Linked DNA regions of Homo sapiens: region 2 is linked to region 1. The links come from fine-mapping of genetic effects on gene expression. Tissue or cell type: gastroesophageal junction. Region 1 holds a variant in brackets; the other region holds the start of a gene. All regions are shown on one strand. Distances are between the middles of the regions.

Region 1 (2,762 bases):
GACTTGGAAGTCACATAGCATCACTTCCACTATACTTTCTCAGTTGAAACAGACATAAACCAGTCATAACCCAGATTAAAGAGATGGGAAAGAGACCCCACCATTTGATGGCGGATAGAATAAATAACATGTGAAACTGAAAATATTGCTGTTCACTGCATTCATTTTGGGAGAACACAGTCTGCCATAGTTAGGCACTTTTATTATTTCTACTATCCTTGTCAAACAGATATACTGATTTTCTCTAAATCCACCACTTACACTTAATTCTGCCTCCTTTACTTACATCATAGTGTTCTCTCTACTTGGAATGTACTTCCTTTCTTCACCCTGCCTTGCTCTGCCTTTTGAAGTGGTACCCTTTCCTTTAAGAGCTAGCTGAAAGCACAGCCTTTCTCTGTCTTTCCCCTGGTTGTAAGAGGTAATTTGATTTCTCCCTGCATTTCCAAAATCCATAATTTTAGCACCATTTATAGCACTTGTTATCTATACCCTGTATTATACATTATCTTCTTCTCTTTTTTTTTTTTTTTTTTTTGAGATGGAATTTCGCTCTGTTGCTCAGGCGGGAGTGCACTGGTGCGATCTCGGCTCACTGCAACCTCCGCCTCCCAGGTTCAAGCAATTCTCCCTGCCTCAACCACCCGAGTAGCTGGGATTACAGGCGCCCGCCACTACGCCTGGCTAATTTTTGTATTTTTAGTAGAGATGGGGTTTTGCCATGTTGGCCAGGCTGGTCTTGAACTCCTGACTTCAAGTGAGCCACCTGCCTCGGTCTCCCAAAATTCTGGGATTACAGGCGTGAGCCACCACGCCCAGCCTACATTATCTTCTTAAATGTAATTCATTTTGAGGGCAAGAAAGACAATATTTTCAAGTTTTAATGTGTACCGCTTAGTAGTTAGACTCATTATTTTGCTAATCTTAAGAATTCCCTAGGCCGGGCGCCATGCCTCACGCCTGTAATCGCAGCACTTTGGGAGGCCGAGGTGGGCAGATCACAGTGTCAGGAGTTCGAGACCAGCCTGGCCAACATAGTGAAACCACATCTCTACTAAAAATTAGCCAAGC[G/A]TGGTGGCACGTGCCTGTAGTCCCAGCTACCTGGGAGGCTGAGGCAGAAGAATCGCTTGAACCCAGGAGGCGGAGATTGCAGTGAGCTGAGATCGCGCCACTGCACTCCAGCCTGGGTGACACAGCGAGACTCCGTCTCAAAAAAAAAGAATTCCCTAAACGATTTTTGTTTTTGTTGATGAGGGTAATATTATAGAGTGGTCAAGAATACTGTGGTCTCATGACAAATGCAGCCTTATAAGCAAAGGTGAAATAGTCATTGCTGGAATACGCAAATGTGGCCCAGCCTCCCAAAGTCATTCCTGGGAACATTTCTGTATGTACTTGCTTACAATAGACATATTACGTTTTCCTAAAGTTTCAAGATTAAGGAAGTGCTCATTCTCCATAGGGCCTTCAGTCATTCCCTCTTCACTGGTTTTGGTTTTCCGTTTGTTGCTCCTCTTTTTTTCCTCTCAAATACTTTATTGTTTCCCACAGGCTTATCTGTTTTCCTACCCTTTATTGATACTGGGATTAAAATGAAATAGTAGAACATTCCATCACTGCCCCATATTTTCTAACATATGGATTCATGTTTCCATAAATTCTATGCATCTAATATTTTCATGCACGTCTTTAAAGAATAGATCTCCACAAGCTCATAATTTGGGTACCAACTATAGAACTGAAGATACCACATACTGTTGTGTAGTTTTCACACTGCATAAAAGGACTGTTTTATAAAGGCAGAGATGAAATCCAGCTTTTCTTTTTTTTTTTTTTTTTTTAGACAGGGTCTTGCTCTGTCACCCAGGCTGGAGTGCAGTGGCATGATCTCGGCCCACTACAGCCTCCACTTCCCAGGCTAAAGGGATACTCCCACCTCAGCCTCCTGAGTAGCTAGGACTACAGGCATGTGCCACCATGCCCGGCTAATTTTTGTATGTTTTGTAGAGATGGGGTTTCACTACGTTGCTTAGGCTAGTCTCGAACTCCTAGGCTCAAGCAATCTGTTAACCTTGGCCTCCCGAAGTGCTGAGATTACAGGCATGAGCCACTTGGCCCAGCAAAATCCAGCTCTTGATCTACCTGCAGTATTCTCTATGTTCTGGTGTGGAGCTTTGTCAGCCAGAAAGTGGGGTGCCCTTTTGTAACTCAAACAAAGAGGTCAAGTGTGTTGCTCTTGGCTCTGACGGTAGATTTGCTATCAAAACTGTCTTCTGAATGGGTGCTTCTAGAGGGTTGGGACCATATCTCATTTATCTCTATGCCCTTTCAACCTCATGGGGGGCTTAGAGACATTTATTGAATTACTACTATATTGCTCTGCAATTATTCCTAAAGATGACAGAGTGCTCCGAAGATACTAGTTATAACTGTCACCTGAAATGGAATGGACTCACTCACAACCTTCCTGTAGGTGGCAGAAAACCAGAGATGAGAGCTTAAACAAAGATTAGAAGCAGAGATAAAGACAGTAAGTTCCACCATTATCTTTATGACTGTTGGGCAAATTAACTGACCTTCTGTGCTTCAGTTTTGTTTTTTTATATACCTGCAAAATGAGGATATTTACAGGTATAAAATGTTTAGTAACCCTCCTTTGTAGGGTTATTACAAGGATTAAATGAAGTAATGCACATAAAACACAAAGCAGAGTGCTGGCCATTGCTGCTGTCACTGTTGAGTAATGTAGAGGAAAGCACATT
Region 2 (2,762 bases), 81 kb before region 1:
AGAGAGAATAGAAAAAGCACTTTGAGTTTGAGTGTGGTTTTTTCCCACAGAAGTCTTTATTGTCTACAATTCATGAAGCAATTTAATGTTGTTATGCATTATATTTCTTCCACTTTCCTTTAAAACTTAACATTCTAATTTTTCTCTCACAGTCAATATTTTGACCTATTCATGCTTACCAATTTCTTTGTTTTCCATTTCTTCTTTCATCCTCTTTTGAATTTCCATAATCTTTTTTCTAAAGTTTATTGTTTACTAGGTCTTTCTGCCTGGATAGAACTTGTAAATAATAAACACTTTCAGTTTTTATTTTAAAATATCTTTATTTCATCCTGACTGAAATAATATTTTTAGCTGGGTCTAGGTTCCTAGATTGAATTATTTCCCCTTAGTACTCTGAATACACTAACAAGGTCTTTATCCTCGTTTTTAATGAGGAACCTGCTCTTAATGGGTAAGTAGTCATCTCCGAAGTCAGACTGGGTCCAACTTGACTCCACCACTCACTTGCTGTGTGACTTTGGGCAAAGTCTACAATCTCTCTGTACCTCACTTTTCCTATCTGTAAAATGGGGAGAAATCTAAAGCGTAGTGCATTGGGTTATTTAAAGATTCATACATGTGTAGTGTCTGAGACATAAAAAGCATTTGGCATTATTCCTATTTATTTGCTCAAGATGAGATGCCTTCTTGCGTTTGAATTGTTGTGTTACATTGCTCCCAGAAACATCTTGATTAGATGATTTTTCCCAGAAAAATAACAGATGCAGTCAATAAGTGCTGCTCCCACCGAGACACCAAAATATCCCGTAAACCAACACACTCTGAGCAGATCTTCGCAGTGAAACGCTGAGTCCACAGAGCGGCCACACAGACACGAGGCTGAAGAGGAAGGAAGCTGGGAACCCTGCGCGGGGTGAGTGCCAGGACTAGTTCCAGGCCCAGAACGTTTCCTAGGGAAGGGTTGAGTAAAGTGACAGTGGGGCAGCCCACTCTCCTCACGTATTTCTGGGATCCCAGCTATAAGAGATCCTATGACCCCCACAGACAGTTGAATTGGCAGGGGGATCTGCCCAGGGAGTAGGCAGAGACAGAGCTCCAGGTTGCAGGGAGCCCAGGGGGTTTTGTGTGCATGGCAGCTGCAGAGGAAGGTGGCTATAGGCGCCTATCCCCCAAGGCTCCCCATCTGACCTCAACTTACCAGTGAGCCAAGAGAGAGCAGGGCGGTCCTTCCTGCGGGACTGGGGCGCATATGTTCTGCGGGACCCCCTGCACGCAGCCCCTCCCAAAGCCCCTGTCTGGTTGTTCCTGCAGGAGTGTGTGCACTGTGCCGCCTCCGCTGCCCAGCCTGAGTTCTTGCTAGCGACCCCGCCTGAATGCTTTCCAGGCAGCTTGGGAGCACTTCGGATCCCCCAACACAGCAGGGGTCTGACCCCGAGGGGCCGAAAGACAGAGCCCAATGCCCCAAGGTTGCAGCACAGAGCTCAGGAGTGCCCAGCTGAGACCTGTGGCTGGTGCGCAAGCGCGGGGGAGGAGCCTCCACTCAGAACACTGGGAGGAGTGAGAAGCAGTTCGTGGGCCAGCGCGGGATGAGACTTGTCTCTCTCAGGGCCTTTCAGGGAAGGGTTGCGGCCTGTCTGCAAGCCTTAGCCTCTGCCGGAGAGAGCCCCCACAGCTCCGAACACCTAACAAAGGAAACGTAAGTGCAGCTCCAGTGATTGGAGGGGGCTCCTCTAAGGGCCAGGAGAGGACTTGGCAAAAGGATCATCTCTCTCCCCTGAACTATGGAGCATGACTGCGAATACAAAATACCAAAGAGCCAGCGCTGAGTCAGAGCCTGCCGGCAATTACTCTTAAGCGCCATCTACTGGTTTGCCGCCGAAATTACAATTTCAAAATATTCTGCCAGTATAGAGCACCTGTAAAACCCAGAGCAAGAATCTAGCCACAAAGATCCCATACAGAGCCTTGGCCCTCTGAAAGTATCCAGAAATGAAGCCAATTGACTATACTCAACATATACCACAGTTAAGCCCTCAAGGTAAATGAATAATATAAAAACAAGACGACAAAGGAACACCAGCCCTCTCAAAAGAGTCAGCACAAGAACTCTGGCAATTCAAAACGTCAAATAAGCATACTAGCCCCTCAGCAAGGACTGAAATGTCCGGAATGACAGACATAGAATTCAGAATCTGGATACCAAAGAAGCTCATCAAGATTCAAGAGGAAGTAGAAACCCAATCCAAGGAATCCAGTAAAAATGACCCAAAAATTGAAAGACAAAATAGCCATTTTTAAAAAGAACCAAACTGAACTGGAATTTAAAAATTCACTACAAAATTTTCATAATAGTGTTGGAAGCATTAACAGAGGAATAGATCAAGCTGTGGAATCTCAGAGCTCAAAAACTGATTCTTCAAATCAACTCAATCAGATAAAGAAAAAAATTTTAAATATACAAATCTTCAGAGAGGATACTCAATCTGTATCCACTGAACAATTTCTCATTTCCTGCTTCCTCCAGTCCGGAGTAACCACCATTCTACTTTTTGTTTCTAAGAATTTGATCACTGTAGATAACCTCATTTAAGTGGAATTGTGTAGTATTTATCTTTTTGTGATTGGCTTATTTCATGTATGTGAAATGTAAAAAAAAAATGAAGCTAACAAATATTTTATTAAAACTAAACATTAATGTGTTTCATGCCACTGAACTGTACACTTAACCATGGCTAAAATGGTAATCATATTTTATCACA

Direction of the effects. Alleles are on the strand shown, and positions count from the first base shown. SD is a standard deviation of normalised expression in the study named.
As copies of A replace G in region 1, the expression in gastroesophageal junction of the gene that starts at base 1,499 in region 2 goes up (small effect, 0.36 SD a copy in GTEx).

The links. PIP is the estimated chance that this variant, and not a neighbour inherited with it, causes the effect.
Region 2: TSHR-AS1 starts here. The variant in region 1 is fine-mapped to the expression of TSHR-AS1 in gastroesophageal junction (GTEx, PIP 0.92).

What each region holds. Positions count from the first base shown.
Region 1 is chr14:81,250,014-81,252,775 of GRCh38, forward strand. No RefSeq gene overlaps it. Among named protein-coding and RNA genes, the nearest start is that of GTF2A1-AS1, 30 kb to the left of the region's middle. The variant G/A (reference allele first, on the strand shown) is at 1,072.
Region 2 is chr14:81,168,908-81,171,669 of GRCh38, forward strand. TSHR-AS1 (TSHR antisense RNA 1) reads right to left here and starts at 1,499. Exons shown (of 9, transcript XR_007064290.1): 1 at 1,202-1,499. LOC105370594 (a long non-coding RNA gene) reads left to right here. Exons shown (of 2, transcript XR_944073.3): 2 at 754-2,762. RefSeq lists enhancers at 1,224-1,283, 1,504-1,873.